Homo sapiens: one gene and its partners. The protein of the gene in region 3 interacts with the protein of the main gene of each other region in a pairwise test. Each region holds a gene or a part of one and is shown on either strand. Other genes may lie near its edges. The genes, in order: MVP, TRIB3 and UBTD2.

Region 1 (8,521 bases), on a different chromosome or scaffold from region 3:
AGGAACCCCAAGAAAAGGAGGGTCCTGCTCAAGTGCTGGTGCTGGGCTCCTCATGAAGGCAGGACACCTCATTCAGTGCTGAGGTCAAGAGGGAACCTAGGAGTTCACGCAAATCCAGGGAAGGCGTGGGCTCACCTCCTGGGGTCAGGACTCAGGGATCCAGTAGCAGGACACTACCCCAACTAAGCTCCCAGTGAGCGTGCAGCCAAATGCGTAACTGTCGGGCTGTTAAAAGATGCATGGGACACAGCTGGCGGGAGTGGGCAGTGCAAGGGGGCGGTGAGAACTCAAGTTCAGAAACTGACTGCCCTGGCCTGCGCCCCCGCCCTGCTGTTTGCAGCCTGTGGACCTGGGGAAGGGACAGGGTGCTTTCCTCAGTTTCCCCATCTGTAACATGAGGAAGACAGCATTTTCTCCTTCACAAGGCCATTGAAAAGATGCAATGAGTGTTAGAACAGTGCCTCTATTGGTCAGAGCTCAATAGCAGCTATTAGGATTGGGTGAGATAAGTCATGTACAGAAACAGTGTTCATGACTGGGTACTGTGGCTCACACCTGTGATCCCAGCACTTTGGGAGGCTGTGGCAGGAGGATTGCTTGAGGCCAGGAGTTTGAGACCAGGCTGGGCAACATAACAAGACTCTGTTTCAAAAAAAAAAAATTTATAAACTAGCTGGGCATGGTGGTACATGTCTATAGACCCAACTACTTGGAAGGCTGAGGTGGGAAAATTGCCTGAGCCCAGGAATTTGAGGCTGCAGCAAGCTATGATTGTGCCACCACACTCCAGCCTGGACAACAGAGACCCACAGAGACCCTGTCTCGGAGGAAGGGAGGAAGGGAGGAAGGGAGGAAGGGAGGAAGGGAGGAAGGGAGGGAGGGAGGGAGGGAGGGAGGGAGGGAGGAAGGGAGGAAGGGAGGGAGGGAGGGTCAGGCGTGGTGGCTCATGCCTGTAATCACAGCACTTTGGGAGACTGAGGCAGGCAGATCACTTGAGGTCAGGAGTTTGAGACCAGCCTGGCCAACATGGTGAATCCCTGTCTCTACTAAAAATACAAAAATTAGCCAGGCCTGGTTGTGGGCACCTGTAGTCCCAGCTTGTAGTCCCAGCTACTCAAGAGGCTGAGGCAGGAGAATCTCTTGAATCCGGGAGGCGGAGGTTGCAGTGAACCCAGATCGAGCCACTGCACTCCAGCCTGGGCGACGGAGCAAGACTGTCTCCAAAAAGAATATTCAATACTCCCAAGCATGTCCCTCACCTCTTAGCTGAGAGCAGCCAGTGCCCTGATGGCGGCAGACAGCTGCCGACATATTCCCAGGGCTGCCGACATATTCCCAGGCACTACAACATCATAGTTAAGAGCACAGGCCCCAGAAGCAGCTGCCTGGTTCAGCTTTCTGGCTTGTCACATGTTATATGGCAAGTCTTGGGCCAGCCACTTGACTTCCCTGGACCTCTACTTCCTCATCTGTAAAATGGGGGTGGTGATCATTGCCATCTCATAGGGTGGCTGAGTGGGATTAAAGGAGAACGTGTGTTAAGTTTTTAGGACCTTACCAGGCATACATTAGCATTCTCTATTGCGAGAGACCCTGCCCGGCCACACAGGATGGGTGTTGAAGTTCTTCTCGGAGAGAGTTGCTGGCTGGGCGTGATCACACATGTAGTCCCAGCACTTTGGGAGGCTGAGGTTGGGGGGTTGCCTGAGCCCAGGAGTTCAAGACCAGCCTGGGCAACATGGCAAGACCTTGTCTCTTCTAAAGAGAGATTCCTGGGTGAAAGCAGCTTCCCCATTCTGGGCCTGTTTGTTCACAGGCACTTTGAGGTGAATGACCGGAAGGACCCCCAAGAGACGGCCAAGCTCTTTTCAGTGCCAGACTTTGTAGGTGATGCCTGCAAAGCCATCGCATCCCGGGTGCGGGGGGCCGTGGCCTCTGTCACTTTCGATGACTTCCATAAGAACTCAGCCCGCATCATTCGCACTGCTGTCTTTGGCTTTGAGACCTCGGAAGCGAAGGGCCCCGATGGCATGGCCCTGCCCAGGCCCCGGGACCAGGCTGTCTTCCCCCAAAACGGGCTGGTGGTCAGCAGTGTGGACGTGCAGTCAGTGGAGCCTGTGGATCAGAGGACCCGGGACGCCCTGCAACGCAGCGTCCAGCTGGCCATCGAGATCACCACCAACTCCCAGGAAGCGGCGGCCAAGTAAGTGAGGCTGGGAGCTCGGCTGCCTATAATGCCCATGGCAGGCCACTGCTGGGAACTGGATAACCTGGCATCCCTTGTGGACTGCCTGCTGCCATCCCTACCCTCAAAGATCTATTCCCTACCCAACAGATCAGGTGACCCACTTAAAATGTGAATCAGGCTGGGCGCGGTGGCTCATGCCCGTAATCCCAGCACTGTGAGAGGCTGAGGCAGGAAGATCACTTGAAGCCAGGAGTTTGAGGCTGCAGTGAGCCATGATTGCGCCACTGCACTCCAGCCTGGGCAACAGGCCTGGGAGACTGACCCTGTCTCAAAAGAAAAAAAAAAAAAAAAGCACGTATCAGATGTGGCTCCTGCAGCCTCCCATCTTGCATGTGATAAAACCTAAACTCCTTCCTGCAGCTCCAGCCGGCCTCCCCCGATTTGCCTTCTAGCCTCCCCCTTCCATGCTCCTCGTCCCTGGAACATGTTCCAGCTGACATGTTCCAGCCCCACTGGCTTCCTCTGCTCCTTCAATGCACAGCTTGGACCCACCTGAAGGCCTTTTGCAATGGCTATTCCTGCTGCCCAGAAAGCTTCCCCCCGCCCCTGAGCTCCCTTCCAGGCAGGCTTCTCCTTCTGGCTTCAGCCCAAAGATCCCCTCCTTGGGGAACACTTTTCTTTCTCTCACAGCTGAATAGCACCCTCTTTGCCTGGTCTCTCCCACACTTGTCACTGTCTGAAATCCTCCTTGTATACTTGTTCTTTTCCCACTCAAGTGGCGTGAAAGTAGGGGGCCGCAGTCACGCCTGCATTTGTCCGGCCTAGAATGACACTGGCTTGTGGCGCGTATACCATTCTGGGTTGAGTTGCGTATTGGGTGCCTTCTAGGGGCTGGGGTCTGTCCTGGGCACCGGTTTGGTTGGTGGCCGCTGCCCTTGGCGCTCCTGTTCCTGCTCTGGCCCCATGCCAGCCTCTCACCTGCGCTCCGTCTCCTCCAGGCATGAGGCTCAGAGACTGGAGCAGGAAGCCCGCGGCCGGCTTGAGCGGCAGAAGATCCTGGACCAGTCAGAAGCCGAGAAAGCTCGCAAGGAACTTTTGGAGCTGGAGGCTCTGAGGTGGGTTGAGAACTAGAGGAGGAGACTGGCAGGGGCCGAGGGTCTTAGGACAGCAGCTGGTGTGGGCAGCAGGCCTGGGTGGGGTGTCGATGAGACAGTGCACGGCTACAGCATAAGCCAAGGCCGTGGGGGGACTGGGCTGTCTCCCGGGTCTTACCTGACTCTGCCTTCTCCCCAGCATGGCCGTGGAGAGCACCGGGACTGCCAAGGCGGAGGCCGAGTCCCGTGCGGAGGCAGCCCGGATTGAGGGAGAAGGGTCCGTGCTGCAGGCCAAGCTAAAAGCACAGGCCTTGGCCATTGAAACGGTGAGTGGGGGGAGGCATTAAGAAGAGGGTGGCCTTGAGTCCTGGAAAAGGCCCATTCCCTACAGTCCCTGAGACTGTATAGGACACCAGGTCCCCCAACATAAAGCCCTATCCAAGTACTTTGCATTTGCAAAGTCCTTTGCCTTGTAGGATTCATTGACTCCATTGCTGGAAGGTAAGGATTAGAACACCCATTTTGCAGCTGGGCGCTCATGCACTGGCCACCTTGGCACAAGTGCTGTGTATGCTTCATAGGCATTATCTTATTTAATGCTTGAAATCCCATTAAGAGGCCGGGTGCAGTGGCTCACGCCTGTAATCCTAGCACTTTGGGAGGCCGAGGCGGGTGGATCACCTGAGGTCAGGAGTTCAAGACCAGCTTGGCCAACATGGTGAAACCCCATCTCTACTGAAAATACAAAAAATTAGCTGGGTATGGTGGCATGTGTCTGTAACCCCAACTACTTGGTAGGCTGAGGCAGGAGAATTGCTTGAACCCAGGAGGTGTGGAGGCTGCGGTGAGCTGAGGTTGTGCCACTACACTCCAGCCTGGGCAACAAGAGTGAAACTCCATCTCAAAAATAAAGTAAATAAAAATAAATGTAAAAAGAGGCCTAGTGTGGTGCCTCAGGTCTCTAACCCCAGCACTTTGGAAAGCTGAGATGGGAGGATCATTTGAGGTCAGTTCGAGACCAGTTCAAGACTAGCCTGGGCAACATAGCAAGACCTCATCTCTACAAAAACAAAATTTTTTAATTGACTGGGTGTGGTGGCACATGCCTGTAGTCCCAGCTACCCAGGAGGCTGAGGCAGGAGGATCCTTTGAGCCAGGAGTTCAAGGCTGCAGTGAGTCCTGATCTGCATTCCAGCCTGGGTCAAAAAATAAAGAATGATTGATTTTTCCTCTTCCAGGAGGCTGAGCTCCAGAGGGTCCAGAAGGTCCGAGAGCTGGAACTGGTCTATGCCCGGGCCCAGCTGGAGCTGGAGGTGAGCAAGGCTCAGCAGCTGGCTGAGGTGGAGGTGAAGAAGTTCAAGCAGATGACAGAGGCCATAGGCCCCAGCACCATCAGGGACCTTGCTGTGGCTGGGCCTGAGATGCAGGTGAGAGTTGGGGAAGGTGTGTTGGTTTCAGGACCAACCTTGAAACCAGGAAGGCAGAGCCAAGGCGGAAAACACAACATCTGGAAAGATTGTGGGGAAGGGAGGGGTGAGTGACCTGACCCACGATGCAGGGACATTCACACAGTGTCACGCTGCATCAACGTCAGGCACTGTACTAGACCCAGCAGTGAGCCAGAGCTCCGGAGGAGACAGGAAATGGATGGGACGCCAGTCTGACAGGCATTTCCAAGGCAGTCAAGCAGGGTGGTCAGATGCAGGGGAGGTGACCCTTCAAACCAGCTGACTTAAGGAGGGTCACTCTGAAGTGGCCAGGGTTTGACGCCCATCTCAACTTCCTCCTGTTCTCACCCTCCAGGTAAAACTGCTCCAGTCCCTGGGCCTGAAATCAACCCTCATCACCGATGGCTCCACTCCCATCAACCTCTTCAACACAGCCTTTGGGCTGCTGGGGATGGGGCCCGAGGGTCAGCCCCTGGGCAGAAGGGTGGCCAGTGGGCCCAGCCCTGGGGAGGGGATATCCCCCCAGTCTGCTCAGGCCCCTCAAGCTCCTGGAGACAACCACGTGGTGCCTGTACTGCGCTAACTCCTGATTAATACAATGGAAGTTTCTGGGCATTTACAATTTCAACACTTTTCTCTTGTCTGACATTGGTTGGGGTTACCAGGGAGCTTAATGGTGGGGAGGGGAGGTGCCCCTGGCATCTTTTTTTTTTTTTTCGAGCTGGAGTCTTGCTCTGTCACCCAGGCTGGAGTGCAGTGGTGTGATCTCTGCTCACTGTAACCTCCACCTCCCAGGTTCAAGTGATTCTCCTGCCTCAGCCTCCTGAGTAGCTGGGATTACAGGCACGTGCCACCACGCCCAGCTAATTTTTGTATTTTTTAGTAGAGATGGGGTTTCACCATGTTGGCCAGGCTGGTCTCGAACTCCCAACCTCAGGTGATCTACCTGCCTCGGCCTCCCAAAGTGCTGGGATTACAGGTGTGAGCCACTGTGCCCGGTCAACATCTTTAGATAGTTACAGGAGACTCTTCTCCTCCATAAAGGGGAGAGGACCCCGAGGCAGGGGAAGGATGAGCTGGAAGTCACCCAGTAGGAATGTGGCCCCAAAGCCTTGTGCACTGGGCTTCCTAGAGCCCAGATAGGGGTGATGATGCCACGGGTGGGGGCATGGGGCCCACAATGGCAACATCTCACCACTGGTTCTCCAGGAGCCCAGCTGCCTGGTAGCTCTCAGCTGTTGCAGATGCAACCCAGCTTCCCATTCGGGAGGCGCCCTCCAGCGCCACCTGCTGGAGCACCCACAGCACCAGCAGACGTGTCAGGCTTGCACCCGGTGCTGTGCGCTTGTCCCTTCCCAGGTGGGGGTGTCAGGTTGGGGAGGAGGACCCTGCCTAGGGCAGTAGGAATTGGGCATCTCCTTGAGCTTCCGGTCTGGGCTGTTTGGGAGCACTGAAGGAGGAGTGCCCTTATCCCACCTTCTCCCCCACAACCAGTATGGGGTCCTCATTTGAGAGAAGGATCCAGGTGCAGTCAGCCTGGGTGCACTAGCCCTTTGGGGCCAGGAACAGTTGTAGGTGCCAGGCCTGCCCCGTCTCTGCCGAGGAAGTAAAAAGATCCCAGGGGCCGAGTGCAAGAGCTTAGGCCTGTAACCCCAGCACCTTGGGAGGCCAAGGCACAAGGATCACTTGAGACTAGGAGTTCGAGACCAGCCTGGGCAACATAGCAAGACCCCCATCTCTACCAAAAAAAAAAAAAAAAAAGCAAAAGCCAGATGTTATGGCATGCATCCGTGTTCCCAGCTACTCGGGGGGCTAAGGTGAGAGGATTGCCTAAGCCCAGAAGTTGGAGGCAGCAGTGAGCTATGATCATACCACTGCAGTCCAGCCTGGGTGACAGAGGGAGACCCTGTCTCTATAAAAAAAAACAAAACAAACAAAACCCTTAAAGCCTCCCTAAAGCCCTCATTTTCACCTTCCTGTAATATTGAGTGGAAAAAGCCCGATCCCCCCTTAAACCACCTCCCTCCCTCTCTGCCCTGCCCCTGACCGTTGCTGCAGGAGGAACACCCCACGGAGCTGACTGATCTTATTTTAAACTCATGGGAACAAATTTTGAGGGAGGTGCAGCTTCTCTGGCTGTGCTGCTCTGTCTTGTGTGCGATCCGCTTTGAGACAACCATTCACACCACCTCTCCTCTCAGCCTCCTACACCCCTGCCCACTTTCTCTCACCTCTTTGAGAAAATAGAAGCAAATTGGGTAGGAAGGCCCTTCCCAGCAACAAACCTAACAAACTGCTGGCATCTAGACTGTCCTCCCTCCTCTTCCCACCCTGGGCTCCTCCCCTTGGGCTCTAGGAGAGAGGGCTGCATTCCTTCACTGATTGCCGTCCTCTCCTGTGCTGTCAATTTTTTTTTCTTTTTTTTTTTTTTCTTGAGACTGAGTCTCGCTCTGTCACCCAGGTTGGAGTGCAGTGGCGTGATCTCAGCTCACTGCAACCTCTGCCTCCTGGATTCAAGTGATTCTCCTGCCTCAGCCTCCCGAGTTGCTGGGACTACAGTCATGCACCACCATGCCCTGCTAATTTTTGTATTTTTGGTAGACATGGGGTTTTGCCATCTTGTCCAGACTGATCATGAACCCCTGACCTCATGATCTGCCTGCCTTGGCCCCCCAAAGGGCTGGGATAACAGGTGTGAGCCACTGTACCCAGCTGATATGCCATCAATTTCTTCTCTCCTGCATCATCATCATCAGGATATAGACATGTCTACTCTGTCCATATAAAACAACTCCCTTAACCCTATGAGCCCCTCTAACTTCCACCTCTCCTTTTTCCATCACAGCCAAATTTTTCCAGAGTTCTCTGTGGTCTCACTTTCCATTCCTCATCTCTCATTATCTCTTCAAACCACTCCAGATAGGGCCAAACGTGGTGGCTCACGCCTGTAATCCCAGCACTTTGGGAGGCCGAGGTGGGTAGATCACCTGAGGTCGGGAGTTCAAGACCAGCCTGGCCGACATGGTGAAACCCTGTCTCTACTAAAAATACAAAAGTGAGCCAGGTGTGGTGGTGGGTGCCTGTAATCCCAGCTACTCGGCAGGCTGACGGAGGAGAATCGCTTGAACCTGGGAGGCAGAGGTTGTAGTGAGCGAGATTGCGCCATTGTACTCCAGCCTGGGCAACAAAAGCAAAACTCCGACTCAAAAAAACACCCCAGTTTGCTTCTGTCTCTGCCCCTTACTTTATGGAAACTGCTTTATTCGGCATCACCAGTAATGTCCCGTTGCTAAATCCAGTAGTTGATCGGTCACTTGGCACAGTTGGCCATTCCTCCCATGCTGGGCTTTCCTGACATCACCTGTTCTAGTTTTCTTTCTCGCTTCTCTCAGTAGGTTCCCTAAGGCCCACTTCTCATGCTGACATTCTTGTCCAATCGCATGACCTCAGATGGTCTCTATACCACTGACCTCAGAATCCATTACTCCAGCTCCGACCTCACCCAAGAGCTCTGGACTCATTTCCAATCCATGCCTTGATGTCTCCACGTGGACCTCAATTGGTGATCAGGCTTTGGCTCTTGCCAATGAAATGCAAGGGGAAATGACATCACATGCCTGTTCTTCCCTTTTCCATATAAATGGGTGACCAGCAATGTTCCAAGTGGAAGCTGCTCCAACCACCTGGGTCCCAGGGAGAAAATGGCATGAGGTGCAGCCACAGCTGACCTGCAACAGACATGTGGCAGGAGTGAGAAATGTTTGCTGTATTAAGCAACGGAGATTTGGGGG
Region 2 (11,461 bases), on a different chromosome or scaffold from region 3:
CGTGAAGTCACATAGCACTGGGCCTGGCTCCTGGGGTAAACTAAGGGGTAGAAAAGTCTGAGGATTCCTGGCAGAAACCAGGAAATGGACAGGGTCAAGGCCCCTGAGGGTCAGCCCATGCAGGACACTGACAAGTGACAGTCCAAGAAGACAGAGATGAGAATAAAAAGTGTAACAATAGGTATTCACTGTGCACCAGGTACTATGATGATTGCTTAGTGTGCACAATCTCTTTTAATCTTGACACAACCAATGAGGTGGTTTCTATCATTGTGCCCCTTTTATAGATAGAGGACACTGAGACTCAGAAAGCCATGGTTACTTGCCACATGACAGAGCCAGGTGGTATCAGAGCTGGGATTGGGCCCAGGAGGCTGAGCCCAGAGAGTCCTGTGCCCGTGCTAGGATAAGCGTTTCACACAATCAGGGCAGGCTGCCCTGGCAGGCAAGCATAAGGAAGATAAGGGGGACCTGGAAACCCAAGGGAGAGTAGCGGGGGCCTGGGTCCCTTGGGAATGCACAGAGAAGCAGAAGGACTTAAGCCTCCTCCTGGGGCAGCAGCAGAGCTTTGCTCTGTTGACGGAGATGCAGTGAACAGCGGGGCAGATCCAGACAGGGTCCAGCCCCTAGCTTCACCTGGCCTCTTGTGCACAGATCTCCAGCGCCCTTACCAGGTGCCCTAAGGAGCCCAGAACTCTGGGTCCCCTTCCTGCAGCATCACAGGCTCTTTTCCACTCCCGCTGGGGAGGTGAGTCCATGATAAGAGGAATAACCCAAGCAGGCTCAGGAGAGAAGCGCCATGCGTTCACAGGGCCCTGATTCTCAAGAAACATTTGGGAAAATCCACTGGAACATACTCACCCCTATGCCAATGTGCACCATGGGTGCTGAATGGTCATTTCCACACTTCCTCAGCTTTTCTGGTCAGTGTGTAGAAAGATCAAAATCTTGTCTTTGTAAATGATCAACTTATTCATTAATTCAACACAACTTCATTGAGCACCCGTATTTGCCATGTACCATGCTGTGGTTAAAAAACAAAGTTCTGTTCTCATCAAGCTGACGTTCTAGTGGGAGATACAGACACTAAACAAGCGAATAAGTAAAATACGTGTCAGGTGGCCGGGCGCGGTGGCTCACACCTGTAATCCCAGCACTTTGGGAGGCCGAGGTAGGCAGATCACCTGAAGTCAGGAGTTCGAGACTATCCTGGCCAACATGGTGAAACCTTGTTTCTATTAAAAATACAAAAAATTAGCCGGGCATGGTGGCAGGGGCCTGTAATCCCAGCTACTCGAGAGGCTGAGGCAGGAGAATCTCTTGAACCTGGGAGGTGGAGGTTGCAGTGAGCCGAGATCACACCACTGCACTCCAGCCTGGGCAACAAGAGCAAAACTCCGTCTCAAAAAAACAAAAAACAAACAGGAAAACCCTTATTCCAGCATCTTTCTTGGTTCCTTTGCAATGCTTATCAGCATTTGTCAATATTTGGTTTCTGGGCATGTTTGCATGGCCTCCCAGTGGGCACCGGAGAGCAGAGCCCATGGCTGTCAGTCTAGCTGGACATGTGGCTGGCCCGTGCAGGCCCAGGGCCAGCATACTGAATGAATGAAAGCGTGGGTGGGCAAAGAGGACGGGAGCTGTGACGGTGATGAGCATCAGGTGCCTTCTGCATCATCCGCCCTTCCGGATTCCTCCTGCTTTGTGGGTTATTTTTCTGTTTGGGTGACCTGTTACTTTTCAGTTATCCGATGTTTGAGGCCATATAGCGTAGCAGTTAAGAGCACAGACAAAAGGCCGGGTGCAGTGGCTCACACCTGTAATCCCAGCCCTTTGGAAGGCTGAGGCGGGAGGATCACCTGAGGTCAGGAGTTCGAGACCAGCTTAGCCAACATGATGAAACCCCATCTCTACTAAAAATACAAAAATTAGCTAGGTGCGGTGGCACATGCCTGTAATCCCAGCTACACTGGGGGCTGAAGCGGGAGAATCACTTGAATCCAGGAGGCGGAGTTTGCAGTGAGCTGAGATTGCGCCAGTGTGCTCCAGCCTGGGTGACAGAGCGAGACTCCGTCTCAAAAAAAAAAAAAAAAAAAAAAAGCACAGACAGTGGAGTGCATACGTGCAAATCTCAGCCGTGCTGTTTGCTGGCTGTGTGGCCTCTCAGCTTCGTTAACCGTAAAATGGAGCAAGTCATCCTACCTTATAGGACCATGGTCAGGGCTGAGTGACTCGGTCAGTGAAGCGCTTGGTGCGATGCCTAGCACATGGTAGTGTCTAATAGGTCAGCTGTGACTGTTTGCAATGCCAGCCTCAGCTCCCGGGAGTCCCCAGCTGTGCTAACACCATGCTCTGCCCACAGGTGTACCCCGTCCAGGAAGCCCTGGCCGTGCTGGAGCCCTATGCGCGGCTGCCCCCGCACAAGCATGTGGCTCGGCCCACTGAGGTCCTGGCTGGTACCCAGCTCCTCTACGCCTTTTTCACTCGGACCCATGGGGACATGCACAGCCTGGTGCGAAGCCGCCACCGTATCCCTGAGCCTGAGGCTGCCGTGCTCTTCCGCCAGATGGCCACCGCCCTGGCGCACTGTCACCAGCACGGTCTGGTCCTGCGTGATCTCAAGCTGTGTCGCTTTGTCTTCGCTGACCGTGAGAGGTGAGTGTGGTCTCAGAGACCCCAGCCACAGACACACCCAGGGGGTGGGCCATGATGGAGAGAAACCGAGGCCCAGGAAGGCAAGGTAACTTAGGCAAGAAGTGGGAGAAACTGAAGTAACCAGCAGCCCCTGTTTAGTTCCCTGAGAAGAGTTGACTCAGGCCAGGTGCAGTGGCTCACGCCTTTAATCCCAGCACTTTGGGAGGCCGAGGTGGGTGAATCACTTGAAGTCAGGAGTTCGAGACCAGCCTGGCCAACATGGTGAAACTCCGTCTCTACTAAAAATACAAAAATTAGCCTAGTGTGGTGGCGCACACCTGTAATCCCAGCTACTCTGAAGGCTGAGGCAGGAGAACTGCTTGAACCTGGGAGGCGGAAGTTGCAGTGAGCCAAGATCACGCCACTGCACTCCAGCCTCGGCAACAGAGTGAGATTCCATCTCAAAAAAAAAAAAAAGAGTTGACTCAGTCCTCTTGGGAGCCCCTTGGGATTCTGGGATGGAGCACTGAGATGTGAAAGTCATAGTAGCCGACAGTGACGAAAGCATCGCCACATTATCTAACGTGGTCTTCCATCCTTACAAACACGAGGCAGGTACTGTTATTATCCCCATATGATCAAGGAAACTGAGGCCCAGAGAGCTCAAGTAACTTGCCCAAGATCCCATAGCAGAATAAATGGTAGAGCTGGGATTTGAACCTAGATCTGACTCCAGAGCCTGGGTCTTAATTCAATCTGAGCTTGAGAGGCAGGGGCCTGGCTGGGCTTACCAACTGACTTTGGGTGACCTAGTGTCTCTGAGCCTCAGTTTCTCCGTTGGTAAGGAAAAGGGCTGGATTGTTAGGGTGTTTTCAGGATTCCAAGACCACAGCCAAAATAGGGTCTGAGGTTCCCCACACGGGAACGTTTTCTGTGAAACTGAGAATTAGCACTTTTTGGTTAAAAGAATCTTCCTTCTCTAGGTTGGGATGCTAAGAATTTTTTTTTTTTTAATTGAGACAGAGTCTCACTCTGTCACCCAGGCTGGAATGCAATGGCGCGATCTTGGCTCACTGCAACCTCTGCTGCCTGGGTTCAAGTGATACGCCTGCCTCAGCCTCCCGAATAGCTGGGACTACAGGCATGCGCCACCATGCCTGGCTCATTTTTTCTATGTTTAGTAGAAACGGGGTTTTGCCATGTTGGCCAGGCTGGTCTTGAACTCTTGACCTTAGGTGATCCGCCTGCCTCGGCCTCCCAAAGTGCTGGGATTACAGGTGTGAGGTACTGCACCCAGCCTAGACGCTAAGAAAAATTTTTAAAAGATAATTCTGGGGAGAAGGGCAGAGAGACTCGCCTCCTGTTCCCTCTCCAGATTCCTGGGGGCAGTCAAGATGTGTCAGGGAGTGCACTAAGCTGCCAGTTACACAGGAGTTTTCTGTGGAGAAAGGAGTGTGACCCCATGGCATTTTAAAAAACTTTTTATCTTGAAATAATTTTAGACTTTTAGAAAACCTACAAAAATAGTTCAAAGAGTTTCTGCATATCCTTTAACCAGTGCTCTCCAATGTTAACACCTGACGTAGCTATGGTACAATTACCCAAACTATTAACTAAGCCACAGATTGATTCCCACTTCCCGAGTTTCCCACTAACACCCCTTGCTGTGCAGGATCCAGTGAGGATCCCAATTTAGTCATCAGTGGTTTCCTTGGTCTCTTCCAATCTGAGACAGTTCCTCAGTCTTTCCCTGTCTTTGAAGACCCATGACCTTGACACTTTTTTTTTTTTGAGACAGGGTCTCACTCTGTCACCCAGGCTGGAGTGCAGTGGTGTGATCACAGCTCACTGCAGCCTCAACCTCCCGGGCTCAAGTGATCCTCCCACCTCAGCCTCCTGAGTAGTTGGTTCTACAGGTGTGTGCCACCCCACCTGGCTAATTGAGATGGGGTCTTGCTATGTTGCCCAGGCTGGTCTCAGACTCCTGAGCTCAAGCAATCTGCCTGCCTCAGCCTCCCAAAATCCTGGGATTATAGGCGTGAGCCACTGCTCCTGGCCATAACCTTGAGACTTTTGAAGAGTACTGATCAGTTACTTTGTATGTCCCTCAATTTGGATTTGATTGATGTTTTCTCACAGTTAGATTGCAGTTATGTATTTTTGGCAAGAACAACACAGAATCGATAGGCCCCTCTCCACATCATATCAAGAGATACTTGAGCTGATAGTCATTCCTATGTCGTGACCTTGATCACTTGGTTAGGGCAGGACCTACCAGGTTTCTCTACTGTAAGGTCCTAATTTACCCTTTGTAATTGACAAATACCTTGGGGGAGGTAAGCTAGGCATATAAATATCCTGTTTTTCCTCAACTTTCACCCACTAATTTTAGCAGCCATCCATCTTGCCTATAGCAGTTATTATTGTGGTGCTTGCCTAAGTCTAATTTTCTTTTTCTTTTTTTTCTTTCTTTCTTTTTTTTTTTTTTTTGAGACAGAGTCTCGCTCTGTTGCCCAGGTTGGAGTGCAGTGGCACGATCTCGGCTCACTGCAACCTCCACCTCCCGGGTTCAAGTGATTCTCGTGCCTCAGCCTCTTGAGCAGCTGGGATTACAGGCACACACCACCACACTTGGCTAATTTTTGTATTTTTAGTAGAGATGGGGTTTTGCCATGTTGGCCAGGCTGGTCTCGAAATCCGCCTGCCTTGGCCTCCCAAAGTGCTGGGATTATAGGCATGGGCCGCTGCGCCCAGCCCCCAAGGCTGATTTTCTGTTAATATTTCCTTCTACATTTTATATTAGAACAAGCATGCCTTTTTTAAAGAAGTAACATTTATAATGATGTTTAAGCTAGTACATAACTTCAAACACATTTTAGGCTTAGGGTAGATACAACTACCCCGGACCTCCTGGAGGAGACAGCGTGCTTCCTGCTCTTTTCAAGAAGTCACTTGATGGCCCACACCTGTTATCCCAGTGCTTCGGGAAGCCAAAGTAGGAGGACTGCTTGAGCCCAGGAGTTCGAGGCCAGCCTAGGCAACACAGAAAACCCCATCTGTACAAAAAATTTATAAAAATTAGCCAGGTGTGGTGATGCACACCTGTGATCCCAGCTACTTGGGAGGCTGAGGCAGGAGGATTGCTTGAGCCCAGAAGTTTGAGGCTGCAGTGAACTAGGATTGCACCACTGCACTCCAGCCTGGGTGGCAGAGTGAGACCCTATCTCTAAAGAAAAAAAAGAAAAAAAAAAAGAAAAATCACATGAGAGTCATTGGTAGAAGAGGGACCGTGAGTTAGATAGACCTGTGTTTAAATCCTGGGTTCTGCTTCTTACCTGCTTTTTGGCCCTGAGCAAATGACTTCACCTGCCTGAGCCTTTGTTTCTTCATCTGTAAAATGGGCTAATAATGCTGACACCCCTTGTCCCCCAATACTGTGATTCATAGGATTGGTCAGTATTTGTGAAATGCCACTGGACACCCAGGAAGTAATGCCATAAAGAAGAAACTAATAGCAGTGGTAATAGAATGATTACTATTAAAGTCATCTTTGAGTGCTCAGTGGAAGTTGTTTAAAGTAGAAATTGCAAATGGCAGGACACACTTTTTTTTTTTTTTTGAGACAGGGTCTCACTCTGTCACCCAGGCCGGAGTGCAGTGGCGCGATCTCAGCTCACTGCAACCGCCACCTCCTGGGCTCAAGTCATATCCTTCTGCCTCAGCCTCCCAAGTAGCTGGGACTACAGGTGCGAATCACCATGCCTGCTAATTTTCGTATTTTTTGTAGAGATAGGTTTTTACCGTGTTGCCCAGGCTGGTCTTGAACTCCTGAACTCAAGTGATCCCCCTACCTCGGCCTCCCAAAGTGCTAGGATTACCGGCATGAGCCACCGCGCCCAGCCTTACACACTTTTTTTTTTGCCCTGCTTACCTGTTTGTGTTTTTTATATAAACTGGTTGCCAATATTTTTTAAATGGGGACCTTTTCATTAAAATACAATTCCTGGCTTCTCTTGGGGAAAACAATGGGAATGTGGGGCCATCTTGGGAACTGCGAGGGTGGGTCACAGCACTGGCTCTGAGTATCTGCCAGCCAGCGTTCCCATCCCAGGCCCATGCTCTACAGCTGTAAAATGGTGTCTTCCTTGCAGGCTGTAGCCTAGATAGAATGAGGTGAGCCAGGTAATGAGCTGGGTCAAGGGCCAGGAACACAGCAGGCACTTGGTAAACCCTAGAATGCGTTGTGTACCCTTTTTAGGTAGCGCTTGTGCTGAGATGTCAGGCACACTTCCTGTTTCTCTCATCTTATTACCTGCCTGGACCCTAAGTTTGTAGCTGGTTTAAGAGAGGCTTAACCCTCTCAGCCCCATCAGCCCCCTCCCCAAGGGACTCTGTTGAAAAATGTATTCCTTTCAGAATTTTAGTTTAAATTTAATTGCTCTGTGGCCTTAAATGACTTAACCTCTCTGAGCCTGGGCTTGGGTATCTGTAAAACAGGATCAGACATCACAGGACTGGCTTGTGTCTGTCAAAGGCCAGCAGGCACTTGGAAAGTGGGTGCCACAAGGGTGATAGCATGGGGTGGTGGCATGGGGGTTCTGGGTAGGACCTGACCCTTCTGTTTCTCCCCATGTCCCAGGAAGAAGCTGGTGCTGGAGAACCTGGAGGACTCCTGCGTGCTGACTGGGCCAGATGATTCCCTGTGGGACAAGCACGCGTGCCCAGCCTACGTGGGACCTGAGATACTCAGCTCACGGGCCTCATACTCGGGCAAGGCAGCCGATGTCTGGAGCCTGGGCGTGGCGCTCTTCACCATGCTGGCCGGCCACTACCCCTTCCAGGACTCGGAGCCTGTCCTGCTCTTCGGCAAGATCCGCCGCGGGGCCTACGCCTTGCCTGCAGGCCTCTCGGCCCCTGCCCGCTGTCTGGTTCGCTGCCTCCTTCGTCGGGAGCCAGCTGAACGGCTCACAGCCACAGGCATCCTCCTGCACCCCTGGCTGCGACAGGACCCGATGCCCTTAGCCCCAACCCGATCCCATCTCTGGGAGGCTGCCCAGGTGGTCCCTGATGGACTGGGGCTGGACGAAGCCAGGGAAGAGGAGGGAGACAGAGAAGTGGTTCTGTATGGCTAGGACCACCCTACTACACGCTCAGCTGCCAACAGTGGATTGAGTTTGGGGGTAGCTCCAAGCCTTCTCCTGCCTCTGAACTGAGCCAAACCTTCAGTGCCTTCCAGAAGGGAGAAAGGCAGAAGCCTGTGTGGAGTGTGCTGTGTACACATCTGCTTTGTTCCACACACATGCAGTTCCTGCTTGGGTGCTTATCAGGTGCCAAGCCCTGTTCTCGGTGCTGGGAGTACAGCAGTGAGCAAAGGAGACAATATTCCCTGCTCACAGAGATGACAAACTGGCATCCTTGAGCTGACAACACTTTTCCATGACCATAGGTCACTGTCTACACTGGGTACACTTTGTACCAGTGTCGGCCTCCACTGATGCTGGTGCTCAGGCACCTCTGTCCAAGGACAATCCCTTTCACAAACAAACCAGCTGCCTTTGTATCTTGTACCTTTTCAGAGAAAGGGAGGTATCCCTGTGCCAAAGGCTCCAGGCCTCTCCCCTGCAACTCAGGACCCAAGCCCAGCTCACTCTGGGAACTGTGTTCCCAGCATCTCTGTCCTCTTGATTAAGAGATTCTCCTTCCAGGCCTAAGCCTGGGATTTGGGCCAGAGATAAGAATCCAAACTATGAGGCTAGTTCTTGTCTAACTCAAGACTGTTCTGGAATGAGGGTCCAGGCCTGTCAACCATGGGGCTTCTGACCTGAGCACCAAGGTTGAGGGACAGGATTAGGCAGGGTCTGTCCTGTGGCCACCTGGAAAGTCCCAGGTGGGACTCTTCTGGGGACACTTGGGGTCCACAATCCCAGGTCCATACTCTAGGTTTTGGATACCATGAGTATGTATGTTTACCTGTGCCTAATAAAGGAGAATTATGAAATAATTTTATTTTTCTCTGCAATTTCTTCCATCCTTTCCAACGATCTCTTACCAGTTTTTCCTGCCTTCAAAACTGGCCCCCATGGTGAAAGGCCGTAGAGTTGTGTCTTAACCTGGGCTGAGTGGTTTGTGAGAACAGATTACCTGGAGCCCAGTGGGTCTTCCTGCACTCCTTCTGTTTCTTCTGGCAGCAGCAGTGTCTCTATTAGGGTACTTTCTGAGTCAAAATGGCTTCAACAAGATGGAAATATGTTTCACACAAAACAAGAAGTCAGCAGATAGGGTGGGCTTCAGTGCTGGTCCATTCAACTCCCAAAGCTGCGCACAGGGACCCCGGCTCTCCAGGCTCCTTCTGTCTCTTGGCTGTATTGTCTCGAGACTGCTGGCCCAATGGCTACAGCAGGTGTCACATTAAAGAGGTCCATGACCAGAGGAAGAAGCCAGGGGTCATTGTAGTACCTGAGAACTCAGAACTCTGGAGTCAGGCTGCCTGGAATTAAATCCTGGCTCCAGCACTCAATAGCTGTTTGACCCTTGGCAAGTTTCTTAACCACTCTATGCCTCAGATTCTTCATCTGTGAAATGGGGGACAATGATAGTACCTAACTTATGAGAACTAAATGACTTATTTTGTATAAAGCAATTAGAACAAGCAGCGCCTGGCATAATAAGCCCACAATAAAAGTTACTCCCGGCTGGGCACGGTGGCTCACGCCTGTAATCCCAGCACTTTGGGAGGCCGAGGTGGGCAGATCACAAGGTCAGGAGTTCAAGACCAACCTGACCAACATGGTGAAACCCCGTCTCTACTAAAAATACAAAAATTTTTAGTAGAGACGGGGCGTGGTGGTGCGTGCCTGTAGTCCCAGCTACTCGGGAGGCTGAGGCAGGAGAATTGCTTGAACCCGGGAGGTGGACGTTGCAGTGAGCCAAGATCCCGCCACTGCACTCAGCCTGGGCAAGAGAGCGAGACTCCGTCTCGAAAAAAAAAAAAATGGTGCTCCCACATTTCTTTCTTGGGATGGAGGAAGCTTTCCCAGAAGCGCTCCTGACCGACTTTCCCACACATCTCACTGGTCAGAACTGCATCACTTGCCGTTTCTGACCAATCACCAGCTTACATTCATGGGGCACGTGCTTACACTAACCATGGCACTCCTCGAGCTAAGTGGAGCTCATGCGTCATATGGAGGGGTAGTGACTCCTGAGCAAAACCAGGTTCAAAGAGGGAGGGGATCGTAGGGAAAAGAATGTGCGGAAGTGCGGAGGCCCAGCCAACAGCCTGCTAACTGCAGATACTCGAGAGCGGCCACCCTAGATCATCTGACCCAGGCTGGCCCACGCTAGAATTGCCCAGTGACCCGCAAGGTCATGAGCTAATTGAGCTAAATAAAATCATTGTGTTTTTTTGTTTGTTTGTTTTGTTTTTGTTGTTTTGTTTTTTGAGACAGAGTCTCACTCTGTCACCCAGGCTGGAGTGCAGTGGTGCGATCTTGGCTCACTGCAACCTCTGCCTCCCGGGTTTTCAAACGATTCTTCTGCTTCTGCCTCAGCCTCCCGAGTAGCTGGGATTACAGGCACGCGCCACTACACCCGGCTAATTTTTATATTTTTAGTAGAGACGGGGGTTTCGCCATGTTGGCCAGGCTGGTCTCCAACTCCTGACCTCAGGTGATAGGCCCACCTCGGCCACCCAAAGTGCTGGTATTACAGGCGTGAGCCGCCGCACCCGGCCAATCATTGTGGTTTTAAGTCACTAAGTTTGAGGCTATTTTGTTTTACAGCAAAAGCTAACTGATGCAGACAGGGACAAGTCAGTCTCATCTCTGTGCACCCAGCATTGCCCAGAACAGGGCCTAGTTGTGTCTAGGGTCTCATGGGGCAGCCCCTGACCTCTATCTTGCCCCTCCCAGCTTCCAACAGACCCTGTCCCAGCTCCCTCCAAGCTGAGTGTTGGCCTGATACCTACCAGTGGAGCGAGGGGAACACGAGGACTGCCAAGGGCAGGTACCGTGCCAACCCTTCACTCCATTCCACAAAGAGACTCATTTACTCCTCATGACAATCCAGTGAGGCAGATGTTCCTGTCACTTTACAGATAAGACAAATGAGCTTTAGAGAGAGCAGAAGACTCATCCAAGACCTCACAACAGAGAAAAAGACTCCTCTGGTTTTTGCCTTGGAGCAGGAACTTTTGACAAGGCTGCGCAGATGCAGCCACATGAAAACCGCCCATTAAAAATGTAATATCGGCCCGGAGCGGGGGCTCACGCCTGTAATCCCAGCACTTTGGGAGGCCGAGGCAGGCAGATCACTTGAGGTCAGGAGTTGAAGACCAGCCTGGCCAACATGGTGAAACCCCGTCTCTACTAAAAATACAAAAAATAGCCAGGCGTGGTGGCATGGGCCTGTAATCCCAGCTACTCGGGAGGCTGAGGCAGGAGAATCACTTGAACCCAGGAGGCAGAGATTGCAGTGAGTCAAGATTGCACCACTGCACTCCAGCCTGAGCGACAGAGCAAGACTCTGTCTCAAAATAATAATAAAATGTAATATTCACTCTTATCAAATAATGGATGTCACCACACCCCGACCCTAATTAGTGAGGACTTTCATGTTCTACTTGTCTTCATTTAATCATCATTGTATAAGAGTTTTACAATATCAAATTAGTAGATGTATATTACTGAAAGGGAAGGACTGTTAGAAATTTACTTGAGGAATGTCTGCCACTGGGGGCTGAACACAAAAGATCCTATTGTGACCTGCCAGATTATTCATTCACTTAGCAATTCAACAACCATCGCTGAATGCCTACTATAGGCCAGGT
Region 3 (12,364 bases):
TTTTTGTAGATACAGGGTCTCATTATGTTGTCCAGGCTGGTCTTGAACTCTGGGGTTCAAGGCATTTTGCCTCCCAAAGTGCTGGAGTTATAGGCACGGGCCACTGCACCCAGCCAACAATGGTTTCTTAGATATGAGCCCCAAAGCACAAGCAATCAAAGAAAAAAATAGGTTAAATGGACTTCATTAAAATCAGCTGGTGCAGTGGTCCATGACTGTGGTCCCAATTCTTCAGGAGGCTGAGGTGGAAGTATGGATTGGGCCCAGGAGTCAGAGTCTAGCCTGGGTAACATAGTGAGACCCCCATCTCCAAAAAAAAAAAAAACAAACAAAAAAAGGAAACTACCTTTTGTGCTTCAAAAGACACTATCAAGAGGGTTAAGCAAGGAGCATTGGTTCACGCTTGTAATTCCAACACTTTGGGAGGCTGAGGCGGGAGGATCACTTGAGGCCAGAGTTTAAGACCAGCCTGGGCAGCATAGTGAGACCCTGTCTCTACAAAATATAAAGAAAATTAGCCAGGCATGGTGGCATGCAGCTGTAGTCCCAGCTACTAGAAAGGCTGAGGTGAGAAGATCATTTGAGCCTGGAAGGTTAAGGCTGCCGTGAGCCAAGATTGTGCCATTGCACTCCAGCCTGGGCAACAGAGCAAGATCCCGTCTCCAAAATTAAAACAAAAAAAAAGAAAAGAAAGTTAAGCCAGGTGTGGTGGCTCACACCTGTAACCCCGGCACTTTGGGAGGCTGAGGCAGGAGGATCACTTGATCTCAGTCGTTCGAGATCAGCCTAGGCAACATAACAAGACCCTATCTCTACAAAAAGAATTTTTTTTTTTGAGATGGAGTTTCGCTCTTGTTGCCCAGGCTGGAGTACAATGGCGAGATGTTGGCTCACCACAACCTCTGCCTTCCGGATTCAAGCGATTCTCCTGCCTCAGCCTCCCAAGTAGCTGGGATTACAGGCATGTGCCACCACGTCCAGCTAATTTTGTATTTTTAGTAGAGACAGAGTTTCACCATGTTGGCCAGGCTGGTCTTGAACTCCTGACCTCAGGTGATCCCACCCACCTCGGCCTCCCAAATTGCTGGGATTACAGGTGTGAGCCACCGTGCCCAGCCCAAAAAGAAATTTTTTAAGTTAGCTGGGCATGGTGGTGTGCACCTGTAGACCCAGCTACTTGGTAGACTGAAGTGGGAGGATTGCTTGAGCCAGGAGTTCAAGGCTGCAGTGAGCTATGATTGCACCACTGCACTCTAGGTTGGGCAACAGAGTGATACTTCATCTAAAAAAAAAAAAGAGAAAAAATTAGCCAGGCGTGGTGGCAGGTGCCTGGTATCCCAGCTACTTGGGAGGCTGAGGTAGGAGAATCACTTGAATTCAGGAGACAGAGGTTGCAGTGAGCCAAAATCACGTCACTGCACTCCACCCTAGGTGACAGAGCAAGACTCCGTCTCACACACACACACACACACACACAAAAGTAAAAAACCTGCAATAGGCTGGGTGTAGTGGTTCACACCTGTAATCCCAGCACTTTGGGAGGCCAAGGCGGCCAGATCACTTGAGGTCAGGAGTTCGAGACCAGCCTGGCCAACATGGCAAAACTCCGTGTCTACTAAAAATACAAAAATTAGCCAGTCATGGTGGTAGGCATCCGTAATCCCAGCCACTCAGGAGGCTGAGGCGGGAGGATCACTTAAACCTGGGAGGCAGAGGTTTCAATGAGCCAAGATCATGCCACTGCACTCCAGCCTGGGCTACAGAGCGAGACTTCATCTCAAAAAAAAAAAAAAATGAGCAAGTATCTTGAGTAGACATTTTTCCAAAATAGATATACAAGTGGCCTATAAGTACATAAAAAGATGCTCAACATTATTAGCCATTAGGAAAATCAAGTCAAAACCACTTTGGAAACAATTTGCCAATTTTTCAGAAAGTTAAACAGGGTTACCATATGACCAAGCAATTCCATTCCTAGGTATAAATCCAAGACAATTAAAAACATATGGCTACACAAAAGCTTGTACAGGAATGTTCATAGCAGCTTTATTCCAATACCCAAAAAATGGAAACAATCCAAATAACCACCAACTGATGAAAGGATAAACAAAATGTGGTACATCCATACAATGGAATATTGTCCATAAAGAGGAATGAAGTTAGTCTCAGCTACTGGGTATTGTGTGTGTTGGCGGCGGGTGGCGGGTTGGCGGGGGGGAGGCGGGGGGAGGTGGGAGGATTGCTTGAGCCTGGAAGGTTGAGTAACATGGTGAAACCCCATCTCTACTAAAAATACAAAAAATTAGCTGGGCATGGTGGTGCACACCTGTAGTCCCAGCTGCTCGGGAGGCCGAGGTGGGAGAATCACTTCAACTGCGAGGTTGCAGAGAGCTGAGATTGTGCCAGTGCACTCTAGCCTGGGTGACAGAGGGAGACTCCGTCTCAAAAAAAAAAAAAAGAGAAAGGTTTGTGGTCGCCTAGGGCTGGGGTGAGGTAGGGGATAGAATGAAATGGGGAGTGACTGCTAATAGGTACAGGGTTTCTTTTTAGGGTGATAAAAATGTTTTAAAATTCATTGACTATTGATATTTAGTAAATATACTAAAAACCATTGACTTGTACAATGTAAATTGGTGAAGGGGTGGGGGTGGATGGGGAAAAGGGAGATATTGATTCCAGAGTAGAAAGTTTCAGTTAGGTGGAATAGGCATTAGTGACCTACTGCACAGAATGGTGACTATAATAATGCACTGTATACTTCCGAATCGTTAACAGAGTAGATCTTAAATGTTTTCACCACAAAAAAGAGAAGCACGTGGACGGGGCGCAGTGGCTCGGGGCACGGTGGCTCACGCCTGTAATCCCAGCACTTTGGGAGGCGAAGGTGGGCAGATCACGAGGTCAGCAATTTGAGACTAGCCTGGCCAACATGGCGAAACCCCATTTCTACTAAAATTACAAAAATTAGCTGGGCGTGGTGGCAGGCGCCTGTAATCCCAGTAACTTGGGAGGCTGAGGCAGGAGAATCGCTTGAACCCAGGAGGCAGAGGTGGCAGTGAGCTCAGATTGTGCCACTGCACTCCAGCCTGTGCAACAACAAGACTACGTCTCAAAAAAAAAAAAGACAAATACGTGAGGTGATGGATTTGTTAATTAGCCTAGTCATTCCACATTGTAAACATGTATCTAAACATCACACTGTGACCTCATAATACAGTTATTTGTCAATTAAAAATAAACTGGTGAAATACATGGTATATGAATATCTTAATAAAGATACTATAAAACAGTAGAAAAGCACATGTGCACACACACACACACACACACAAAGAAGGAATTGTTTTGATAGAAAGTGCTATGCAGTCAGTTTTTTTTTTTTGGAGTCAGTCTTGCTCTGTGGCCCAGGCTAAAGTGCAGTGGTGCTATCTCGGCTCACTGCAACCTCTGCCTCCCAGGTTCAAGTGATTCTCCTGCCTCAGCCTTCCGAGTAGCTGGGATTACAGGCACACGCCACCATGCCCAGCTAATTTTTGAATTTTTAGTAGAAACGGGGTTTCACCACGTTGGTCAACCTGGTCTCAAACTCCTGACCACAGGCGGTCTGCCCGCCTCAGCCTCCCAAAGTGTTGGGATTATAGGCCGAAGCCACTGTGCCTGCCTGCAGTAAATTTAGATAGATGATGCTAGACATGAAATAAAGAGTTGATGAAAAGCCCCACAGAGTTTGGAGCATTATTTTTGGCCCAATTTTACAGGTGAGGAAACTGAACTCCACATAAACTTTTTTTTTTTTTTTTTTTTAGATGGAGTCTCACTCTATCGCCCAGGTTGGAGTGCAGTGGCAAGATCTCAGCTCACTACAACCTCCGCCCTCCGGGTTCAAGCTATTCTTCTGCCTCAAACTCCCAAGTAGCTGGGACTACAGGTGCGAGCCACCACGCCTGGCTAATTTTTTTTTTTTTTTTTTTTTTTTTGAGATGGAGTCTCGCTCTGTTGCCCAGGCTGGAGTGCAGTGGCGCGATCTCTGCTCACTACAAGCTCCGCCTTCCGGGTTCACGCCATTCTCCTGCCTCAGCCTCCTGAGTAGCTGGGACTACAGGCGCCTGCCACCACGCCCGGCTAATTTTTTGTATTTTTAGTAGAGACGGGGTTTCACCATGTTAGCCAGGATGGTCTCGATCTCCTGACCTTGTGATCCGCCTGCCTCAGCCTCCCAAAATGCTGGGATTACAGGCATGAGGCACCACGCCCAGCCTAATTTTTGTATTTTTAATAGAGATGGGATTTCACCATATTGGCCAGGCTGGCCTCCAACTCCTGACCTCGTGATCCGCCCGCCTCGGCCTCCCAGAGTGCTAGGATTACAGGCATGAACCACCGTGCCCGGCCAAACTTTCTTTTTTCTTTTTTTGAGACAGGGTCTCGCTCTGTCACCCACACTGGAGTGCAGTGGCGCGATCACAGCTTACTGTAGCCTCCACCTCTCTGGATTCAGGTAATTCTCCCACCTCAGCCCCCTGAGTAGCTGGGACTACAGGCGCTCACCACCACGCCCCGCTAATTTTTAAAATTTTTTCGTAGAGACAGGGTCTCCCTATGTTGCTCAGGCTGGTCTGAAACAGCTGGGCTCAAGTGAGCTTCCCACCTCAGCCTCCCAAGGTGCTGGGATCACAGGCGTGAGCCACCATGTCTGGCAGAAACTTCAGACCATATAGCTAGTACACGATGAAAGCCAGATTCCAATCCAGGAAGTTAATCGCCAAGCTGGGGCCCTGACTGCGACACTACTCTGCCTCCTGGGAAATGTGTCTCTAAGATAAAGGCAGGGTGGAGAACATCTATTGCTGAGAATCTCTCCCCGAGATTGCTCTCTCTTCCTAGTGCCAACTCCTCAGTGCTCATCGGAGAGCCCTCATCATTTGGGTGCCTACCATCTGTTTAATAGACATCGTGGAAGTCTTGGTTTCTGCAATTTCTAGAGTGAAATTCAGGACAAAGCAATCTCTTTGCAAATATTCGGCATGCAGCTTCTCTTCTTCAGGGAAGTGATGAAGTGATGTGTCTGCCAACGTGTATAGTTAGTTGAAAATGATCAGACAGAAGGCTTTGTGACACAGCCCCTGATGTCAGAGCAACCTCTGAAAACTCATAATAACATCGATGGCATAAGCTCTTTTTGGAATGTTCAGGACCACAACTGAGGACAATACTAATTCTTCAGGATGAGTTTAATATAGCAGATTTCTATATCTCACGACATTTCTGTGTTTTAACCTAAGTGTAGGTTTTGCTTGTCTACTGTCTTTTTATCAAATGAATACAGAGATCTAAATCTTTGTATAATAGCTTGATCTATTTCTGTGAGCTAGATTTCCAGATGTGGAATAATCCCGAGTCAAAGGATATGAACATTTTTAAGGCTCTTGATCTGCATTGCCAAATTGCTTTGCAAAAAAGATTGAACCAATTTACACTCCCACCAGCAATGTATGAGAATATATTTAAATGCAAATCCCAAGCTGCAGAGCATCTCTTTCTTAGGTATTTCAACTTAAAAAATTTTTTTTCGTGCTAAGCAAAAGCTGACCCAGGATGTTAAAAAAAGAAAGTCTGATATAAAAATGGAGCAGATAGTTAAAACAGCTTCTTAGGCAGAAATAAGCTTTAGAAAGTCCCAAGCAGGATGATAACAATTTTAAGGCATCATAGCACGAAGCACAATTCTAAAGGGACCATTAACAATTTGGCTGAGATTGGAAAAGTAACCGCCAAGAATGTTGGGCGTGGTCAATGTCCCAAATTCTAGATTCGAAAAGGCAGGGTGTTTCACTCATTTACACTTCACTTTGGCCTAAGGACGATTTAAGATACCCAAAGGCAGGATCTTGATAAGTAGTATTGTTTGAATCATTAATCCCGTGAAAATGAAAGAAACCCACGCCCCCTGAACTAAGGTCAGCGTTTATCTCTTCTTTCCAGGCGTTCCATCAGGACGCCTCGCCTCTAATCTCAGTTTGGTTTGCCACAACCACTGCCTCCACCCCTAATAATGGGGCCCCATGATTTTAGGGAAGACGGGGGTGGGCAGGCAAGAGGAAGCCCAGATTCGGGGTACCAACCCACGGAGCGCCATACAAATTCAAAGGGCGCTGGGACCTCAACGTTCGGCCAGGACACTCTCCCCCGAGCCCCCGTTATTTGGGAAACCGCCCCGTCCCCGCCTGCGAGTCTTCCACGACTACTTCTCGGTTCCCCCGTGCGACCCGCTTCCACCAGCAAGAAGGAGCCGACGGCCGAGGAGCCAGGAACTCGATTTCGCCCCTTCCCACTCCTCTTTTCTCACTTTTGTTCGGCTTTTTCCTGCTTTCCCTCCCTTCTTCCCTCTCCTTTCTTCTTCCCGTCCTCCCTCTCTCCTCCTCCCCTCGCCTCCAGTCCTCCCCCCGCCTGCAGTCCTCCCCCCACCTAGCCCCCTGCGTCCCCTCCCCCGCCTCACCCTCGCCCCGCTCCGCTCGCAGCCCCGCCCGCAGCCAATCAGAGCGCGGCCTCCGGTGGCCCCGCCCTTCTCCGGCGATTCCGGGCGGGCCGGGCCGAGCCCAGGCCGTGGGTGCGGAGGGCGGCGCCGCGGGCCGGGGGCCGATGGGTCCTGGCGGACGCGAGGCGCCGGCGCGGGGCTCGCCTGGACTCGGGTGTGCGGGGCTGTGAGGGGGCGAGGCGGGCGCTGCGGCCCGCCCGGGATGGGCCAGCCCTGGCCTGGCGGGGCTGAGCCGAAGGCGAGGGCGGCGCGCGGGCCAGGCCTGCCGGGCGGGCGGCCCGGGGGTTGAGGTAGAAGTGGGCGCGGAGGAAGGGGCCGAGCCAAGGCGGTGGGTGGAGCGGCGAGGGGGGCGGAGGCTGGGCCGCGGCGGGCGAGCGGAGCGGCGCGCCTGTCCGGAGCTCGGCGGTGGCGCCGGAGGAGGCTGCAGCGGCGGCGGCGGCGGGCCCGGACGAGCGTCCGGAGGTGGCGGACGAGGCGCCGGGGGCCCCCATGGGCGGGTGTGTGGGCGCCCAGCACGACTCCTCGGGCAGCCTCAACGAGAACTCGGAGGGCACCGGAGGTAGGTGAGCGCCAGGGGGCAGCCTCGGCCCCCCATTGTTCCCGGCCAGGCCCGGCCACCTGTCCCGACCCCCGCGGGCCGCGCCGGGCCCCCGCGCCCCTTTGTCATCCCCTCTTCCACGTCATTCCCCGCGCTCCGCTTCCGGCTGTCCTGCCAGCCGCGGGGGTCGCCCCTTCCCGCCCCAGCCCTGAAGAAAAGTCCTCTGAGCGCCGGGGACGTAGCCCTTGGCCTCGCCGACCGCCCCGCTCGGCTCGGGGAAGTCGGACCCGAAGCTGCCCTTCTGGCCACCTCACTCCCTCTCCAGGCCGTTTAATTATTGAGGATCAGGATGGCGGCGCCGGGGTTGCAGAAAAGCGAATTGATGGCGGGGGGAGGGAGCTTGATGCGTTCCCTCCGACGGGCCCCGCCACATCTTTCCGCACCCTTCCTTGTTCTGTGGAGTTGGCTGGTCTCAGCTTTCCTGAGTTTCAGATGACAGCTGCCCCGGTTGGTTCCAGATTGGCCATTTAAACCTGCGAGTTTCTGGAGCTCGGCTGGAGGAGTCTCCAGTGGCCGCAGGCATTGTATTAAGGAGGGGTGGGGAAACGGTCTTCCCGGGTAAAACGTGGCTCCTAGCTAGAGCTTGGGGGTGTTAGGCCGGTGTGCTGTCGGGGTGGGCTAATCACATTCCCATCTGTCTTACGTAGAAGGAAAATATGTAGGATAAAAGTACAAGTGCAGTTGGACCCTGACTTACCCCACCCAGTAAGATCAGTACTTTAAAAGTTTTCTAACACGGGAACGCACTCCTACTTTATAGTAAAAGCGTGCTGAGGATAGGTATTTTAATTCAATCAGTAGTAGTTGTAGTATGGCAGTATAATAATAAAATTAGTTCTATCTTTATTTAAGTGACCTTTGGTTACGTCCATTCTGTAGAATATTTTAGTGATAAACAGCCTTTAGGCAAAGATGACAGCGTTGGTTTGATTTGTGACCTAATGTTAGCTGCCTTAAAATGTGCATGTCTGTAAATTTTTAAATTGTTTGGGTATGGGAGGGTTTACAACTTTTTCGTAGCATACTAACATTTAGACCAGTTGCTTGCCCTGTCACTTAAGCTCTCTTCACAAACCATGTACACCTAAGTTTTTTGGCTAATGGATTTCCTGAATTCCATGATGGTTAGCCATGCCACTTTATTAAAATCTGTGGGTATCCTGTATGACTAAATCCTGGGTAAATAACTTGAGAACTCAGTGGAAGTTGTCTTGAAAAAGTCCATGAAAATGCTACTTTATAGTGTATTTTATGTCGTAGCATTATTACTGGCATATTGAGATCCTCAGTGACAACAAAGCAGGAAGATAAAAAGGGCACGATTTAAAACAGCCTTGGGTTAAGGTGAAATTGAAGGATCAAAATGAATCTTCCTCTAATTGTGTTGATCATTAATGATTCTGAAATATATTAGTATTTGTTATCGCTAGTGTTTAGTTTTAATTAAATTTTTTTCACACTCATTTTAATATTGTCATAAGCATTTTGCTCTTCTCCGTAATGTATGTGGATTAATTTATTTAAGCCTTTTGGTAGTGTGACTTATGACCAGACAGGCATTATTAATATGGGCTTTAAAAAGCGTGAAATCTTAGCTTTGGGTAATTTATTACCGGTGGTATCCAGTTAGATAGCTATAGTATCAGTTTCTTTGAGGACTGAGTTCTCTGGACCGTAAGCTCTGCTGTACATGAAGTTTAGAAAAAGGAACATTAACCACCAAACGTCTTTATTTTCTTTTGGAGAGAGGACATGGGCCCTGATGTAACTGGGGTCAGGGAAGAGGCTCTTGTACTAAAAGGATTATTTCTGGAATTTGATTATGGACGCTTTTATTCTCCATTATTGTCATGATAATTAAGAGTTAATTGTGGTTTAGTGAAATTAACTCAGGTGTGTTGCAGGTTAACATATAAAAAAAATTATTGCTTAATAAGTAGATTGTTGGGAAGGGAAAGACTTTTTCCTAAGGGTGTTGGCACAGATCCCTAGCTTTTCAAACATACTGTGGTAGTGAGTTAGGTTTGGGGGATGTGTGGAGGGCTTGGTTTGGTTTCTCGAGACAGGTTCTTGCTTTATCGCCCAAGCTGGAGTGCAGTGCCAGATCACAGCTCACTGCAGCCTTGACCTCCCAGGTACAAGTGATCCTTCTACCTCAGCCTCCCAAGTAACTGGGACCACGAGGTGCATGCCACCGCACCCGGCTAATTTTTAAAAAATTTTTAGTAGAGGTGGGTTTTGCCGTGTTTTTAATCTGAATGTGTTGGGTTATGAAAGTTGTTTTATCAACATGGAGTCTTCACATGCTTCTTACAACGGATTTAAACTTTCCATGACAGATTTAATTACATTCACCAACCAGGCGGGGTGGCTCATGCCTGTAATCCCAGCACTTTGGGATGATGAGGCGAGAGGATTGCTTGAGCCCCAGGAGTTGGAGACCAGCCCAGGCAACATAGTGAGACTCTGTCTTTAAAAAAATAAACAAAATAATTACATTCACAGTGTTGTGCAAACATCACCATTTTAGAATAGCTTGACCCTTTCTAAATATCAGCCAGCCTTAGTAAGAAAAAGATTTTAAAAAAATCTTTTGACCATTTGAAATACTATACTTTCCTTTTTCCCTCTGAATCCATCTCTTATGTATGCAAGTAATTATGTGTATATCAATAAAACCTTCCTTATTAGGTGTATTCTTTGAAGGAATTTGGGAGATTTTTATAAGAGACTGTAGAATATGGAAGTGGCTTAATTCACATTATAAGCTTTGCATTATCTATTGTTTTGGGATTAATTGTTGTATTTTCCTTTGGCATATACCTTGCCTAGAATTTAGTTCTTGAGCTCCAGCTACTTAGGCTTTTTTCAAATAAAAAAACTTTTATTTTTATATTTTGTTATTGAGATAGTATCTTGCTCTGTCACCCAGGCTGAAGTACTGTGGCATGATCATAGATTACTGCAGCCTTGAACTCTTGGGCTCAGGCAGTCCTCTGGCCTCAGCCACATGAGTAGTTAGGCTGGTTTTTTTTTTTTTTTTTTTTGAGATGGAGTCTTGCTCTGTCGCCCAGGCTGCGGTACAGTGGCACGATCTCTGCTCACTGCAGCCTCTGCCTCCCAGGTTCAAGAGATTCTCCTACCTTAGCCTCCAGAGTAGCTGGGATTACGGGTGCCCACCACCATGCCCAGCTAATTTGTTGGTATTTTTAGTAGAGACGGGGTTTCACCAGGTTGGCCTGGCTGGTCTTGAACTCCTGACCTTTAAGTAATCCGCCCACCTGTGCTTCCCAAAGTGTTGGGATTACAGGTGTGAGCGACTGTGCCCAGCCTTTTTTTTTTAATGCCTACTTTTAATCAAGACAGGTATGTCATAGAAGTTATGTAAGATTATTTAACAGTTCTAAGCTTCCATGCTCCTAGAATTTCCCATTGTTTTGACTTTTTTTTTTTTGAGACGTCGTTTCACTCTTGTTGCCCAGGCTGGAATGCAATGGCACGATCTCAGCTCACTGCAAACTCCGCCCTCCCGGGTTCAAGCAGTTCTCCTGCCTCAGCCTCCCAAGTAGCTGGCATTACCGGCGTGCGCCACCGTGCCTGGCTAATTTCATATTTTTAGTGGAGATGGGGTTTCACCGTGTTGGTCAGGCTGGTCTTGAACTCCTGACTTCACGTGAGCCACCTCGCCCAGCCTGTTTTGACATTTTCAGACATTCTGTATGGTTCTCCGCCGTACTAGAATGACATTGTGATGCTGGAGTTGGCATTTAGGACCTCTAGACAAGCCTTTAGCCATGACATTTGCTAAGGAATTAAATCCTTTATGATTTTTTGAAATAAATATGTGGGCAGAAAATCCAATAAAATTGTATTAATTGAAGACAACCAACAACCTTTTCTTTCTTCACCTCTTTAATGAAAGTATAGTGATGTACAAAGTAACTTCTCACTTTCTGAGTGTGTCATTTATTTTGTGCATTCAGTGATATCCTAAGAGAACTGACCGTGGTGGTCACAAGTTTCCAGGTTTACAGAGAATAACTGAATGCTGGACATTCATTCCTTTAGTCTCTATTCCAGAATGTCTTGAGAACATCATGGAGTTCTTTCAGATACCCATTTATAGCAGCCTTACAGACACCTACTCAGTGAGTAACAATGGTTTTTGAATAGCATCTACCATTTATCCAGTATTTATTATGTAACAGGTCCTAACAACCTTATGAGGTGGATAGTATCTCTGTTTCATAGATAAAGATTGAAGCCAAGAGCAGTTATTACGTTAGTGCAAAAATAGTTTTGTTCTTTGCCATTACTTTTAATTGCAAAAACCGCAATTACTTTTGCACCAACCTTTAATAACTTGCTCATCATCACATAGCTTATAACTGGCAGTCAGAGCTTAAACCCAGGGCTGCTATAAAGAATGCTAGTTTTCTGTTTTTCCGTAGTTTACTTTTTTTAAATTGTGACAAAATTGGCCAGGCCCAGTGGCTTACGCCTGCATTCGCACCACATTGGGAGGCCAAGACAGGTAGAGCACTTGAGGTCAGGAGTTCAAGACCAGCCTGGCCAACATGGAGAAACCCCATCTCTACTGAAAATACAAAAATTAGCCGGGTGTGGTGGTGGCGAGTGCCTGTAATCCCAGCTATTCAGGAGGCTGAGGCAGGAGAATCGCTTGAACATGGGAGGCAGAGGTTGCAGTGAGCCAGGATCACGCCATTGCACTCCAGCCTGGGTGACAGAGTGAGACTCGGTCTCAAAATAAATAAATAAAAATAAAATTGTGGCAAAACATATAACAATTACCGTCTCAACCATTTTTAAATGTGTAATTCAGTGGCATTGATTATATTCACAACGTTGTGTGGTCCTATATGTAGAATCATAAAATATTTGCCCTTTTGTTTGTGGTTTATTTACTTACCATAAAGTCTCCCGTGTTCATCCTGTTGTAGCATGTATTTGTACTCTATCCTTTTTATGGCTAAATAATATTCCATTGTATGTATATACCGCTTTTTTTTTTTTTTCCCCTGAGGCAGAGTCTCACTCTGCCTAGGCTGGAATGCAATGGTGTGATCTCAGCTCGCTGCAACCTCTACCTCCCAGGTTCAAGCGATTCTCCTGTCTCAGCCCTCCGAGTAGCTGGGATTATAGGTACGCACCACCACGCCTGGCTAATTTTTTGTATTTTTAGTAGAGACGGGGTTTCACCATGTTGGCCAGGC

What was found.
Region 1: the proteins of UBTD2 (region 3) and MVP interact in binary tests that used the Homo sapiens proteins (3 or more experiments, as listed by UniProt).
Region 2: the proteins of UBTD2 (region 3) and TRIB3 interact in binary tests that used the Homo sapiens proteins (3 or more experiments, as listed by UniProt).

What each region holds. Positions count from the first base shown.
Region 1 is NC_000016.10:29,842,677-29,851,197, forward strand, and holds the end of MVP (major vault protein), read left to right. Parts: intron 1-1,816; coding exon 1,817-2,203; intron 2,204-3,186; coding exon 3,187-3,303; intron 3,304-3,481; coding exon 3,482-3,608; intron 3,609-4,520; coding exon 4,521-4,709; intron 4,710-5,085; coding exon 5,086-5,313; 3' UTR 5,314-5,345; downstream 5,346-8,521. UniProt on the Homo sapiens protein: Required for normal vault structure. Vaults are multi-subunit structures that may act as scaffolds for proteins involved in signal transduction. Vaults may also play a role in nucleo-cytoplasmic transport.
Region 2 is NC_000020.11:388,925-400,385, forward strand, and holds the end of TRIB3 (tribbles homolog 3), read left to right. Parts: intron 1-2,362; coding exon 2,363-2,655; intron 2,656-7,273; coding exon 7,274-7,766; 3' UTR 7,767-8,635; downstream 8,636-11,461. UniProt on the Homo sapiens protein: Inactive protein kinase which acts as a regulator of the integrated stress response (ISR), a process for adaptation to various stress. Inhibits the transcriptional activity of DDIT3/CHOP and is involved in DDIT3/CHOP-dependent cell death during ER stress.
Region 3 is NC_000005.10:172,278,323-172,290,686, reverse strand, and holds the start of UBTD2 (ubiquitin domain-containing protein 2), read left to right. Parts: upstream 1-6,922; 5' UTR 6,923-7,021; coding exon 7,022-7,091; exon of another isoform or gene 7,092-7,095; intron 7,096-12,364.